2 separate regions of the Homo sapiens genome follow, and region 1 is linked to region 2. A link means that fine-mapping ties the variant in region 2 to the expression of a gene that starts in the linked region. Tissue or cell type: whole blood. Region 2 holds a variant in brackets; the other region holds the start of a gene. All regions are shown on one strand. Distances are between the middles of the regions.

The links. PIP is the estimated chance that this variant, and not a neighbour inherited with it, causes the effect.
Region 1: LINC02561 starts here. The variant in region 2 is fine-mapped to the expression of LINC02561 in whole blood (INTERVAL, PIP above 0.99).

Annotation. Positions count from the first base shown.
Region 1 is chr10:5,267,585-5,275,402 of GRCh38, forward strand. LINC02561 (long intergenic non-protein coding RNA 2561) reads right to left here and starts at 3,652. Exons shown (of 2, transcript NR_149060.1): 1 at 3,614-3,652. It also overlaps the pseudogene AKR1C7P. RefSeq lists an enhancer at 3,955-5,154.
Region 2 is chr10:5,205,497-5,213,314 of GRCh38, forward strand. It overlaps AKR1C4 (aldo-keto reductase family 1 member C4), which reads left to right. Exons shown (of 9, transcript NM_001818.5): 4 at 261-338; 5 at 779-901; 6 at 7,120-7,229; 7 at 7,498-7,663. It also overlaps the pseudogene ARL4AP3. Among named protein-coding and RNA genes, the nearest start is that of AKR1C4, 13 kb to the left of the region's middle. RefSeq lists an enhancer at 4,469-4,638. The variant G/A (reference allele first, on the strand shown) is at 4,341.

The DNA of each region.
Region 1 (7,818 bases), 62 kb after region 2:
TCCAGCACTTTGGGAGGCCAAGGCAGGTGTATCATGAGGTCAGGAGATCAAGACCGTCCTGGCTAACATGGTGAAACCCCATCTCTACTAAAAAGTATAAAAAATTAGCCAGGCATGGTGGTAGGCGCCTGTAGTCCCAGCTACTTGGGAGGCTGAGGCAGGAGAAGGGCATGAGCCTGGGAGGCGGAGCTTGTAGTGAGCCAAGATTGTGCCACTGCACACCAGCCTGGGCAACAGAGCAAGACTCTGTCTCAAAAAAAAAAAAAAATTTAAAATTCAAATGTGTACAAATAACTATAAATCTATGTTAACATGTACACAATGTATGAGGTTGTAATTAGTGACATCAGTAATGTGAAGTTGAGAGAAACACAGATGTGGAAAAGGGGAATTTATGTACAGAATTAAATGTGTATTGATTTCAAAGGAGATTTTATAACTCTAGGATGTTTTATGTCATTTTCATGGTAACCACAAAGAAAACAATTATAGAATATACACAAGTGAAAATGAGAGGGAAATCCAAGTGTCCCTAAAAATCAATCAGTGACACACACAAAAAAATGTTAGTAATGGAGGATATGAAGAACAAAATGCTATAGACATACAGGAAAAGAAAAATATTAAAATGCAAAATTAAGTTGCTGTCACTAATTATAGTTATCTGTCATTTAATGATAAGAATACATTCTGAGAAATGCATTTTTAGGCAATTCAAGCATCATGTGAACACCATAGAGTGAACTTACATGAATCTAAATGGTATATTCTACTATAGGCTTTCTGGTCTAGACCATTGCCTGTAGGCTATAAACAGTAGAGTGCAGCATGTTCCTCTACTGAATACTATAAGGCAATTGTAACACAATGGTATTTGTGTACATAAACATATAAAAGGAGCAGTAATAGGTTTTGTAATCTTATAAATCCACTGTTGTATATATGGTCAATCATTGACCAAAATGTTGTTATGCAGCACATGAATATACTTTAAATGTAAATGGATTAAACCCCCACACCAAAAGGCAGATCAATTTGCAAAATGGATTAAAAGAAACAAGATCCAACTATATACTCAGCACTAGAAACTCAGTTTGCATCTATAGATGTGACTAGTATGAAAGTGAAAGACAGAAACAGATATTCTATAAAAACAGTGACAAAAAAGAGCTGTGGTGGCTATACTAGGACCAGGAAAAATAAAATTTAGTCAAAAACTGTGATAAGATATAGACAACATATTATATACAAGCATATCTCAGAGATATTGCAAGTTCAATTCTAGACTACTGCAATGCAGCAAATATGACAATAAAATGAGTCACACAAATATTTAGATTTCCCAGTACATATAAAGTTATGTTTACACTATACTGTCATATATTTAGTGTGCAATAGCATTACAGCTAAAGAAAAAAATATGCATGCATTTGTTAAAAATATTTTATTTCTGAGAAATGCCAATAGTCATCTGAACCTTCAGCAGGTCATAATCTTGTTGATAGTGGAGGTTTTAGATATGATGTCGATGCCTCCTGACTGACCAGGGTGGTGGTTACTAACGGGTGAGGTGGCTGTGGTCATTTATTTAAAATAAAATAAAATAAAATAAAGTTTGCTGCATTGATTGAGTCTTTCATGTGAGATTTCCTCTTTCATTTACACACACACACACACACACACACACACACACACACTATATGTTTTGTTTCTTGGGACAACCCTGACTAATATAGATTTTGGTATCTGGAGCAGTTCTAGAGGAATAGAATTTTGAGTTTCCTGAATTGGTTTTGGGGTTTCTGGCATTGTCAGTCTAATCAGATTAGACTTGAAAATGCGAAGGACTTTATTTCCAATAATGAAGAGAGCACTGATAGTCCATGATATGAAGTATTTATAGAGTGCACAAAACATCTGCATTGATACTCTACTTAACAACTTAAAAGAGGCAAAAAAAATAGTGACTCTGTATGTGATACTTTCAAACATTTGTGGAAAACTAAGAATAGAATGATGTTGGTTAGTTGCACCTCATATTGCTGGAAAGAGGAAGAAAAAAAAGGGTGAGCTCAGGAATTCAAAATCCTGGATTAAGCACACATGACCTAAGAGCTTCTAGGTGTGCGCTGAGTGAGAATCCTATGTCTTACAGCCACAGGGCTGAAATTGCTGAAAATCAAATGCAAGTGACACCAAAAGCACAGTCAACAGAGGAAAACATAGATGAATGAGACTTCATAAATTAAAACATTTTTGCATCAAAAGAGACTACTAAGCATCAGAAAGCAACCTATAGAATGGGATAAAAATATTTAGTTGCAAGTCATATTTCTGATGAAGCTGAATACCATGAAATTTCCTGGCAGATGCCCAGCACTCTCAACTTCATCCCAAGCTGCCTTTACTCAGCTGCCAAGACACTTCTTGGTGTCTTCAGACTTCTGTGTGAAGTTTCTCCAGAGTTAAACCCTGCATGTACCCCTAACTTGATGTAAAATTTGGATTATGATATCTTCTGATTGTACACAGATCAGACTTCCTGTTCTATCATGATTTCCCTTCTCTCCTGAATTCAGAATATTTTCTGACAGTCTTTGGATTTATACTTTGATCTAATCCTGGTGACTCCCAACTAGACTAATTGGAAATGCTACAACTGGTGAAAATTTTGTTTCCAATGTCCTTGTTATAGGAACAGAACTATGTTGCTTCATTCGCATCACGCCAGGCAATTCAGTATATTCTCTCAACGATATTCAAAAGTAAACTCTGTTTCTCTTCTCTGTGTGTGTGTGTGGATTGGTTTGGTTTTATGAGAAGGAGTCGTCCAGGCTGGAGTGCAGTGGTGCCATCATAGCTTACGTAGTCTCAGCCACCTGGATTCAGGTGATCCTTCCACCTCAGCCTCCCTATTAGCTGGAACCACAGGCGCATGCCACCTCGCCCGACTAATTATTTTATTATTTGTAGAGACAACGTCTGTGGCCCAGGCTGGATGTGTGTTTTAAGACTAAAATCTTTTAGACACCACCAAAATAAAACAACTCTGAAGTGCCTGTGACACAGGATAATCCCTAGGATCATGTGAAGGTGGACAAAGTACCCTGGTTACTTCCCTCTCTCTCCACATCCGTTTCCTCCCTTCTGTATTTTGGGGATACTATCCACTCCTCTTTCGTGCTACTGTGCTCCAGGAGAAATAAAAACATGGGACAGAATAAATCTTTCTGGGTTCACACTAACAGCCTCTCAGGGTTGGAGGGGAGCTTGAAGGCCAAATTAAACCAAGTAATTGGGGAAAGTATCAGACAGCAACAGGAATAAAATGTGAAGTCCATGGATAAACACCTTTATTATGCAAGGAGTTTATCCTAATCTATAAGAAAATGTCTGGTTCTCAAAAACAGAATTCAACAGACTTTTCCTCTGGCAAACCTGCATTTCAAACATCACTGGGAATTCATCCAGTTGTCTTCAATGAGAATCATTTCAACATGTCCTGCAGCAAATAACTCCACTGTTGGTGCTTTGATAGTTAGAAAACTCCTCTATATGGTGCAAATAATTTTCAATCCACAAATTCAGATGAGTAAGAAGAAAGAAAAGTTACCTGTTTTCTTGAAATTAAACTTCTTTAGGCTGTTGCAACCTTGATCCTCCTTGTCAAATGCCAGCTGAGGATCTGATGGCCTCACAAACGGACCCAAGGTTTTGGGTGGTCCCTCCGGGTGTCCTGCTCTGTTTCTGTGGAGACACTCATGGCTCCCAGAGCTTAGCCCCATTCAGGCCCAGCTGCTTTGCCTTCCGTGAACATCACTCCAGCTCCAGAGGGAAAAGGGATGGTTTCCACCTTCAGATATCAAAGTCTAAATAGGGATATGGGAGAGCAACAAATGAAAAAGGCTTAACATAATGGCCTGTAAAAGTAAAGAAGGATGGTCATTGGGTGGTAACTGTGCTAGGAGACAAAACCCCACCATCCAGACATTTTTCTTCCTCTCCAGGCTATGGAGATTTTCTCTCAGACAGTGTCTGGAAGATCCCACAAAATGACACAAAAATATTGGCATTCACAACAGAAACCAATCAAGGACTCTTGCTCAACTGCACTGAAAGTTAGAGTAACTTATCCTATGTGGTCACAAACTTTGGAAGTTGTCTCTTAACACAGCTGTGCTTGTCATCTCTAAAGCACTCTGCTTGGTCCTCCCAGACCAAGATAAACTCTAACCTCACAGAGAGCGGCTTAAAGTTGACAGTAGGCTCAGTACATCTGAGCAAGGCAACCCTGTACTCACTGTCCAATAAACTTAGTATTTCTTCTGGCTAACTCAAGGGAAATTATAGTGCTGATAATAGCAATGACACCAACGCTACTAGCTAAGATTTTGAGTTTCTATTCTGTATCAGGCAAGACTATCAGGGAATCCTCTCAAATACCCTACAAAGTAGATTTAACTTGTAACTTATTTTACAGAAAAGGGAACAAAAAGGGTTACTTACTTGTCCAAGGTGATTTGAAGAAGAAACTGTGTCCTGAATATGAGCTCTCAGTGAGTGAAGATTCCTAAAGACTTTTTTAGATCCATGCCTTTTGTGCATTATTTGTTATTTTAATATCACTCAATACTATAGCCGACCCCTAGAATCTACTGGAGCCATGCTGTCAGGATGACTCAGCAGTTTTCACACATTCTGACCACTCTTGTATAGGTACAAAATGCAGGGTGCATTGTAAAGAGAAAATTATTAACTTGGATGGTTGTTTGGATTAGAGTACAGGCAGGTGCAAAAAAAGTAATTCAAATTGGTTTAAAATCCACAAAAATGTGTTAGTCCCATAACAAGAAGTCCAGAGGGAGGGTAAACTCTGGGTGTCATCCATGAGAGTGCAGAATTTCTCTCATCTTCTCCTTTTTCTTCTTCTGTGTATTGATGTCGTCCTCAGGCTGGGTGGAGACTCCACAGCAATTTCACACCTCACCTTGCAATGGGACAATATCCCCTTGAAGAAGAGAAGCAACCTCTCTTCAAAGGCTCCTTCTTAGAAGTGAGAGAAACTCTCCTAGAAGTACCCAGCACAGTGCTTCTTATGTGGCGTTGGCTAAGGCTGGGTCACAACTCTTTATCCACAGTGACTCCTATGCCAACCACAATGAAATTAGCATGGCTGACCTAAACAAATTATTTAAAGTAAAACTGATGTTGGAAAGGCAATCATCTTGACTGCTGAAACCATAGTGAGAAAGTGCTTTTCTTTAAATTAGATGTTTCCAAACTTACTTGTGTAGAATAAGTGGAGTCTGATCAATTTCAATTTAGTATATTATTTAGCCTAATTTTCATACGTAAACTTCTATGGGTATTGAAAGAATGCAAAGAGGAAAGAAGAGAGACCTAATGACAACTCTTGATGAATCAAGAACTTGATAAATCAAGGTATAGTAGAAACTGCAGAGTTAAGAGACTTCATTAATATAAGATGTGTCCAACTGAAGGTTTCATAGATGAAGCACGTTTAAGTAGTAAACATGGGATCCATTGCCTGAAGTATAATCTAGACATCAGTAGAAATTCTGAAGAGTTGAGAATGTTGGCAAACTGAAAAGCTTGAGTTTTCCATATGAACAACAAAAGACAATGTCAACAGATCCTGAGAATAAATTTTAGAATAAAATAATGAAGGGCATGTATCCAGAAGGAGGAAATACAATAGGGTCAAGATTACATCAGCTTTAAAGAAACAGGTATTTATTCATGTGGTTTTCCTCTTGATATCTGAGATAAAAGTCTAGAGTTTCAGGATCCAGTGGCTGGACATAGAATTCTTTCTATTACAAAAATTAGAAAACTAAAGTTTAGTTGCTCTAAATTTACTTACAAAACTAGTGTAGTAGGCTCAGTAATGGCCCCCAAAGACATACATGCCCTTATCTCTGGAACCTGAAAATATGTTACCTTAATGGCAAAAAGGGCTTTCTTTTTTATAATTCGTTCTTTTTAATTGAGTGTCATTAAAGAGTACTTTCTAAGCAGTTAAATGCACCAGGAGCTGTATTAACATAGGGCCACAGAGATGAGTAAGAGGAGACATTCACAGTCTCATGAGGCAGATCACAGATTATACTTAAGGCCTGTGAGTATAGAAAGGTTGCTTTCACATTTTTCTCATTGAAAATGTCTTTTCTTGGAAGCCTGGTATGGTTTTACAAAAAGAAGGGGGACCTTTCAGATGTGTTTTGGAGACTGAGTATTTTCCTAACTAAAATGATATTTCGCCCTGTTTCTAAACTCCCCTCCAAACTTGGCTCTGTTTGATTAGTCATCTTTCTCCTCAACCCTGAGATCCTGCCACAGTTGATCCAATGGAACGTCATGTTTGTGAATAAACTAAAGTGAAGTTATGTTGGGTTCCTTAGAGGTGGGCTTCAGATGGACGAAGATGACACTGGAGTAAGAGTCTTGCCTCGAAGATCCGGAGAAATTCCAGAGGATCTTAACTTGGTGGAGGCCACTGGGGACACCTCAGTCACTAGCACTGAGGGTCTATTAATTTCATAATTCATTTGTCATTCAGCTTAGTGAGATTATATAGCTGAGGAAATGGGAGTTGTGAAGGTAAAGAAAGCCAAGGAAGACAAAAATTTGGAAGAAATAGTTGGTGTCTCGGAAAAGGAATGCCACAGTAAGGAGAAATGTCACTGGACACTTAGGGGAGGCCATGGAAGCAGGGCCCACTGTGACTTCCCTAGGACATATGCACATTTGCTTTCATGGACCAATGCTCTATACAAATATTAAAATTAAGTCTTACATTGCCTTGGTATAGACATGAAGATAGACGAGGCTGGATTCATTATTACATATTCATCATTGTTGTATTCTCTTTTTCTTCTGACTTTAAAATAAATTAAAGCTAGAACATTATCATGGGCTCCTATAAGTATGATGGGTCATAGACACCGTGCCTTCTATTCTAATAGGCAGTGGCCCTGCGTGCAGGACCGGGCACAGGTAGTAAGGGCACTAAAGAAGTGCATTCATGGCGGGGCACAGTGGCTCATGCCTGTAATTCCAGCACTTTGGGAGGCCGAGGTGGGCAGATCACGAGGTCAGGAGTTCGAGACCAGACTGGCCAACATGGTGAAACCCTGTCTCTACTAAAAATACAAAAATTAGCTGGGCGTGGTGGCAAACGCCTATAATCCCAGCTGCTCAGGAGGCTGAGGCAGGAGAATTGCTTGAACCCGGGAGGCAGAGGTTGCGGTGAGCCGAGATCGTGTCACTGCACTCCAGCCTAGGCAATAGAGCAAGACTTTGTCTCAGAAAAAAAAAAAAAAAAATTGAAGAAGTGCATTCACAATGGTGCAGATGTCAACAGTTTCACTTACTGACTCACATTCCTGTTGGGTCACAGATTGAGCCACATGAGGACTATAGGGAAGCTCCTGTTTCATACCTATTCCTGAAATCTGGCCTGCCTTCCTGATTTAGGGAAGATGTATTCCTCTGTTTGCCTGCATATTACAGAAAACAGCCTGTGAAAGAATCTGCAAGCATGACTTACAATTGTAACTTAGCATATCGGAAATTTCTGTTGAGGCCATCAGTGGCTTTCATGTCCTCTGGAGTCAACTCAAAGTCAAAAACCTGAAAGGAAGAAAACACTCACATTAACCTTTCCCCAGGACAGCAGCTTCTTCCTGGGAATACAAGGCTTTCCGGGGGCAGAGGCAAGGATGGCAGTATGTAAAGTTTCTGTCCTCATTGGCCTCTAGGTGAGACCTCTTCCCCCTGAGTTCTGCTACTTTTCCA
Region 2 (7,818 bases):
GTAACAGAAGTCGACTGTGAACCCCCATTAAAACCTGTAAAATGGTTATTAATATATATAATGGAAGTAGGAGATTAAAGGAAGCCTGTCTCCTAAAGACATTCCTTAAAACTCTGTACGTGAAACACTTGGCCCACATCACTTTCTAGAACATTTCAGCACCTACCTCACGGTGGATTATTATCCTAAAATGTACATGGGAGCATGCCTATGGGTGGAAAAGTTAAATGGTGACACTAAAGTGACTGCTTCTACTTCAGCCAGGTGAGACGCCACTACCAAAAGATGAAAATGGAAAAGTAATATTCGACACAGTGGATCTCTCTGCCACATGGGAGGTGAGTGCTTGGAGGACAGAGTACAGAAAAGGAAGACAAGAAGAGGTAAACCTGTTCCCCAGCTTTCATATGCAACATTGGAATATGCACCATTGGAACTAGAAATTAAGGAGCTTGACAAAGGAAGTTTTGCTGAGTGGTAGGGAAGAATACATGACTGAAATAGAATAGCAGGAAATGAAGGAGATAAACTGGGGACAAGGAAGACAGATATTCCTCCCGCTCCATGGACATTTATCTCTCCAGCTTCCTAAAGAGGATACACAAATTCTTCTTGCTGTCACTATCCTTTTGTTATCTGTTGTAATTTTTTCTCTTGAGAATCACTGCTATTTTCATTGTCATATCTTAACAGTTGTTGCTTTAACAGTTCTGTCTTGCATTTATCATAATCTGCAGCCAACTGCACAAATAATTCCTCACAACCCCTTTCTCCCCAGGTCATGGAGAAGTGTAAGGATGCAGGATTGGCCAAGTCCATCGGGGTGTCAAACTTCAACTGCAGGCAGCTGGAGATGATCCTCAACAAGCCAGGACTCAAGTACAAGCCTGTCTGCAACCAGGTGAGCACCCTCAGCCTCCTCTCCTTTCTCTTCTCAATGTCCATCTTCCTGTCCTACTGCCTGGCTTCCATTTGTTTTGTTCCACTTACATTTGTGAAACAGAAGATTCTAGAAAGCAAAACATCTGTCTAGAAGAAAACGGAAGACCCTTAATTGCACCTCTTCTTGGAGAAGTCTTAATGAAAATGGTACAGAGACCTTCATGCTAAATTGTGTGTACTATTTTTGGGGGAGGTGAATTTCATCAAGGAGGACTGAAATGGTTAATCAGAACTCAGGGAGAAGGTGGACTTATCTCTAAGGTATGAAAGACCACCAGAGAGTGGATTGGTAAAGATGATTTGGAGTAGAATGTATATAATTATAGAGGCCATAAAAACATGGGATGAGCAATAAATCAGGAGACAGTGAGAATAAGAGAAGATCGGTACTACGGGTTTAAATAGGGTTTAGATGTCTGAATGCTTTTTCTTGTCATCTCTGTTTTCATAGTTCTTGAGCAGGTACTAAAAATTAACTGGAAACAATGAAAGTCATCCAGGTTAGGGAGAGGAAGTTACCCGTTTATGAGAGTTGCTTGAGAGATAAGCTGAAAGGATGTGGCGTGCTACCCCCACCCCTGCCTCGTGTAGAAAAGCCTGCCAATGTTGCCTCATTTAGACCCAGACTCCAAAACGGGAGTCTTATAGCTGGGCCACCTAGGAAGAGAGGTTCTAAAGCATAAAAAAGAAAGCATTTCATTTTGGGACATTTATTTGCAGCTGGAAATGGGGGAATGGGCTAACTGGCTAAACTACTATCTTGTCCATCCTGCCTTCACTTCAGTCCTTCCACATTGTTATTTGGTGTTTGAACTGTGCTAGAAGAACTGTTTTATACAGGCTGCTATTCAATAAATTTGTAAATACCATACCCACACCAAAGGATTTAACACTGAAAAGATTAAGGTAATTTTGGAAAATTCTAAAAGTCACTTTTCACTCCTGAGATGTAGGTGGTCAGAAGAAATGAGGAACACTGTAGAAGCCATATGCAAGATGCACAGATGGCATTGTGTTTGTTGTGGACTGTTGATGTTAACAGGATGGAAGAAGTCAAAACTGAACTTTATAAAATAGGGTATAAGAAAATAAAGATGTCCCTGTACTTACAGGTGCTAAGAAACTAGACTTGAAGAACTTGTCTCTCTCAGAAATTGAGAAATTGTTAGCAATGGTTGAACTAAGCTCATCAACTCCTTGGCATTTGCAGCCTACCTGTGCAATCATAGGACATGAAATAAAGGAAGGACTTGAGAAACTCCATGATGTGATAATGAAGAGAAAAATATTGCAGTAATATAAAAAGATGAATATGATACCTTTTCTATATATGTAGAATAGATTTTCTCTGGTCTGATTTTGACAAATGCAAGACTGTCTACAGCCTAGTTTTCCTGTATGCCCTCCTGGGTGCTATCAAAGCTTCATTTCATTGAACAATCAGATGCCCAACTCTGTGGCTTTGTGGAAGATGAGTAAATGCAGTAATGCTTGAAATGGTCTCTTCTCCCTAGCCCACAAATATTTTGGTACTATCATTTTGGGAAGTCAAGCAAGTATAGTAAATTAACCAGAACACAATTGTGGAAATTTGATGCAAAGTTAGTGAAATAAAACTTTAAAGAGTGAAAAAAAGGAAAGTTAACTATTTATGGAGATAACTAGTTATGGTGGATGAAATCAACACTGAGGAAAATTTAGCAGAACATTGAGCTGACCTTTTGACTGTCCACATCTTATTCTGATGCACTGCTTTGCTTTCTGTCATCAAATCAACTGTTTAGAAGCATTTATTCTGCGTATGGTTCTGTTCTCTTACTCTTTTACTACTTAGAGTCAATGAGTACAGGTCTACAGTTGAAACATGTATTTAAAATTTATGTATTTGGTAATATAATACAAAATCATGATTTTCAATTAAAAAGGAATTAATGTGGTTTTAATATTAGTTTTACTCAATTATTATTATGACAACTTTCAAATTTTAGAGAAATTTGAAGGGATAATACAGGACATCTACATGTTATCATCTATTTCCAAAATTGTTGACACTTTGCCAACCTGGCAAGTATATAGGCATATATGAGTATATCTGCATCAATACAGGTAGTATTTGTTGAATCTCTTCAAAATATATTCCAATGATCACAATTCACCTCTACAGACCTTTCAAAGCATGGCATAGGAATGAAGATATTCTCCCAGTAACAGTGCAATTATTATATCTAAGGAAATAACAATAATGCCCTCATATCATTGATTATCCAGTCAGTATTCATATTTCCCATTGTTTTATTGAAAGATCTCTTATACCTCTATTTTAACCATAAATAGAAGATGAAAAAATTTAAAGATACCATAAGATATTAAGTACCTGAAATTATACCTAATAAAAGATGTGTATGACCTCTAAGGAGAGAATTATAAAACAATGAAGAATAAATAAAAGATGTATCATGAAAACAAAAACAAAAAAAAAACATCCAATTGTGACTTTCAGTTTGTTGTACTTTGGTCCGTTAACTTGTTGTTCCAAGTTTTTAAAATTTAAGTTTGTGTAGATTAGAAGTTATACTTGAATGCTTTATATCATAGAAGTTAAACATTTTTGGTGAGAAACTGCCTCTACATTGCTGTATCCCTGAAATTATACCACAGTAGGCAGCATGAAATGACAGATTGTCCCACAATTAGTGATGCTAATTTTGATCACTTGGTTAAACAAGTGGTAACCAGATCTAATTTCCAGAGACATGTGTTCTCCCCTTTGTAATTACTGGTAATCTGCTGGGTGAAATAAGAGGGAAAGTTATATTACACAGCAAATTTTCACATGATGATTGAGTATACATCAATGATGTTTTAAATTTTTGTATTGTATTATTGTATTTGTTCTTTCCTTGGGGCTTTAAAGTAATTACTTTCAATTTTAACTACAAGTTTTACTATTCTTTACGTTTTATTATAAAAAAATTTTTTTCACAAAGTCAAGAAAAGAAACAATTACTGCTCTCAGATATGCCAAAAGCTTAACTCCTTCCCTTTAATTATTCATTTCCTAGAAAAAAAATTACTGTAATAATCACTATATTAGTCCATTTTCATGCTACTGATAAAGACACATCCAAGACTGGGACTTATAGTTCCAATATGGCTGAGGAGGTCTCACAATCATGGCAGAAGGCAAGGAGGAACAAGTCACATCTTACATAGATGATGGCAGGCAAAGAAAGAGCTTGTGCAGGAAATCTCCTCCTTATAAAACCATCAGATCTCATGAGACTTATTCACTATCTCAAGGACATCATGGGAAATATCTGCCCCCATGATTTAATTATCTCCCACCAGGTCCCTCCCACAACACATGGGAATTATGGGAGCTAAAAGATGACATTTGG[G/A]TGGGGACACATAGCCAAACCATATCATGCCACCCCTGGCCCCTCCCAAATCTCATGTCCTCACAATTCAAAACCAATCATGCATTCCCAATAGTCTTCCAAAGTCTTAACTCATTTCAGCATTAGATCAAAAGTCCACAGTCCAAAGTCTCATCTGAGACAAGGCAAGTCCCTTCCACCTATAAGCCTGTAAACTCAAAAGCAAGTTAGTTACTTCCAGGATACAATGGCGGTACAGGCATTGGGCAAATACAGCTGTTTCATGTGGGAGAAATGGGCCAAAACAAAGGGGCTACATGACCCATGCAAGTCTGAAATCCAGCAGGGCAAATTTTAAAGCTTCAAAATGATCTCCTTTGACTCCATGTTTCACATCCAGGAGTCAATGGAACTCCATTTACATCCATGCTGATGTAAGAGGTGGTTCCTATGTTCTTGGGCAGCTCCACCACTGTGGCTTTGCAGGGTACAGCCTCCCTTCTGGCTGCTTTCATGGGCTGGCATTGAGTGTCTGCAGCTTTTCCAGGTGCACAGTGCAAGCTGTCAGTGGATCTACCATTCTAGGGTCTGGAGGATGGTGGCCCTTTTCTCAGAGCTCCACTAGGTGGTGCCCCAGCAGGGACTGTGTGGGGGCTCTGACCCCAGAGCACTGCCCTAGCAGAAGTTCACCATGAGAGTGCATGCCTAGTGGTAAACTTCTGCCTGGACATTCAGGCGTTTCTATACATCCTCTAAAATCTGAAATCTAGGTGGAGGTTCCCAAACCTCAATTTTTTTTTTTTTTTTTGAGATGGAGTCTCACTCTGTCACCCAGGCCCAGGCTGGAGTGCAATGGCGCTATCTCAGCTCACTGCAACCTCCGCCTCCCAGGTTCAAGTGATTATCCTGCCTCAGCCTCCAGAGTAGCTGGGATTACAGGCACGTGCCACCACACCTGGCTAATTTTTGCATCTTTAGTAGAGACAGGGTTTCACCATGTTGGTCAGGCTGGTCTCAAACTCCTGACTTTGTGATCTGCCTGCCTCAGCCTCCCAAAGTGCTGGGATTACAGGCGTGAGCCACCACGACCAGCCCCATACCTCAATTCTTAACTTCTGTGCACACATAGGCTCACTACCACATAGAAGCTGCCAAGGCTTGGGACTTGCACCCTGTGCAGCCATGGCCTGAGCTGTACCTTGGCCCCTTTTAGTCACGGCAGGAGTGATTGAGATGCAGGGCACCAAGTCCCTAGACTGCACACAGAATGGAGACCCTGGGCCCAGCCCATGAAACCATTTTTTCCTCCTAGACCTCCACCTCCCTCTGGGCCTGTGATGAGAAGGGCTGACACAAAGGTCTCTGACATGCCTTGGAGACATTTTCCCCATTGTCTTGGTGATTAACATTTGGCTCCTTGTTACTTATGCAAATTTCTGCAGCTGGCTTGAATTTCTTCTCAGAAAATGGGTTTTTAATTTTTACTGCATCATCAGACTGCAAGTTTTCTGAACGTTTATGCTGTTTGCCTTTTAAAACTGGATGCTTTTAACAGCACCCAAGTCACTGCTTGAATGCTTTGCTTAGAAATTTCTTTGACCAGATATCCTAAATCATCTCAGGTCCAAAGTTCCACACATCTCTAGGGCAGGGACAAAATGTCAATTTCTGCTAAAACATAACAAGAGTCACCTTTGCTCCAGTTCCCAACAAGTTCCTCATCTCCATCTGAGACCACCTCAGCCTGGTTACTATCAGTATTTTTGTCAAAGACATTCAACAAGTCTCTAGGAAGTTCCGGACCTTCTTATACTTTTCTGTCTTCTCCTGAGCCCTCCAAACTGTCAGAACCTCTACATATTACCTAGTTCCAATGTCACTTCATTTTCAGGTATCTATCTTTCAACAATGCCCCACTCTACCATATTAGTCCATTTTCATGCTGCTGATAAAGACATACTCAAGAGTGGGGAAAAAGGGGAGTTTAATGGACTTACAGCTTCACATGGCTGGGGACACCTCACAATCATGGCAGAAGGCAAAGAGGAGCAAGTCATGTCTTACATGGACAGCAGCAGGCAAAGAGACAGCTTGTGCAGGGAAACCCATTTTTAAAATCATTAGATCTTGAGAGACTTATTCACTATCATGAGAACAACACAGGAAAGACCCATTCCCATGATTCAATTATCTCCCCTGGGCCCCTCCTACAGCATGTGGGAATTATGAGAGCTACAAAATGAGATTTGGGTGGGGACACACAGCCAAAACATATGAATCACCATTGGTGAAGGCAAATACTTTTGATCACTCTGTCTTTTAACCACTCAACACTATGAAGACATGGATTGTTTTGCTATAATTTGTAATTCATTTTATTCATTGTTGGTTTTTGATGCTCAAATCTATGCAAATGTTACTGGGATTCCTATAAAACTACTTTTCTCTTTTAAACCTGCCCTTATGAGTCTTTAAAGAAATTCTTACATTCTGGCACAATTTGATGTTCAAAGCTCAGAATCTTAACCTATCCCAAGTCTAGAATTGGCCATGTGCACTTCTAGTGGTCAAAGGTTGTTAGAAACTGGCTCTGGTTCATAGAGTTGCTAATGCTCAGAAATAACATTTCTATATATACTTTTAGACCAGTAATATAAACTGTATTTTTATAAAATGATTGTTACTTGACAGTAATATTCTGTTCAAATTTAATGTTATACTTTATTCAGCTTATTTTAATCTTTATATTAACATATCTGTTTTGAATTATCTGATGCTTTTCTCTCTTGATCATCTAAAGGTAGAATGTCATCCTTACCTCAACCAGAGCAAACTGCTGGATTTCTGCAAGTCAAAAGACATTGTTCTGGTTGCCCACAGTGCTCTGGGAACCCAACGACATAAACTATGGTAATAAGAGCATCAGGAAGTTTACCTAAAATGCCATTTTGATGAAAAATTTTAGTTATAGCATACTCAGTCTCCTAGAGTTCATTCTCAATGGGTCAGGGTAAGGGGATAATTTGCATTTCTTATGAGATACCAGGTGATGCTGCTGCTGTTCAGGGACCTCACTTGAGAGGCTCTGGTGCAGAATGAACACCTTAGTCTGTTTAGGGAGCCTCCTACCAAACTGAATCCAGCCTCAAGACTTCAGCATTTCTGGCTTTCCTTCCAGGGTGGACCCAAACTCCCCAGTTCTTTTGGAGGACCCAGTTCTTTGTGCCTTAGCAAAGAAACACAAACAAACCCCAGCCCTGATTGCCCTGCGCTACCAGCTGCAGCGTGGGGTTGTGGTCCTGGCCAAGAGCTACAATGAGCAGCGGATCAGAGAGAACATCCAGGTGAGGAGTTGGGTGGGCATCAGGGCTCCTGCACAGTGTCCTTCACACGTGTGCTTCTTGTAAGGTTCTCAGGACACCCTTGGACTAAGTCCACTTCCTGGGCATTTCCTATGCACAAATGCTTTGTGTGCATAAGTGTTTTCTACTCTACCACA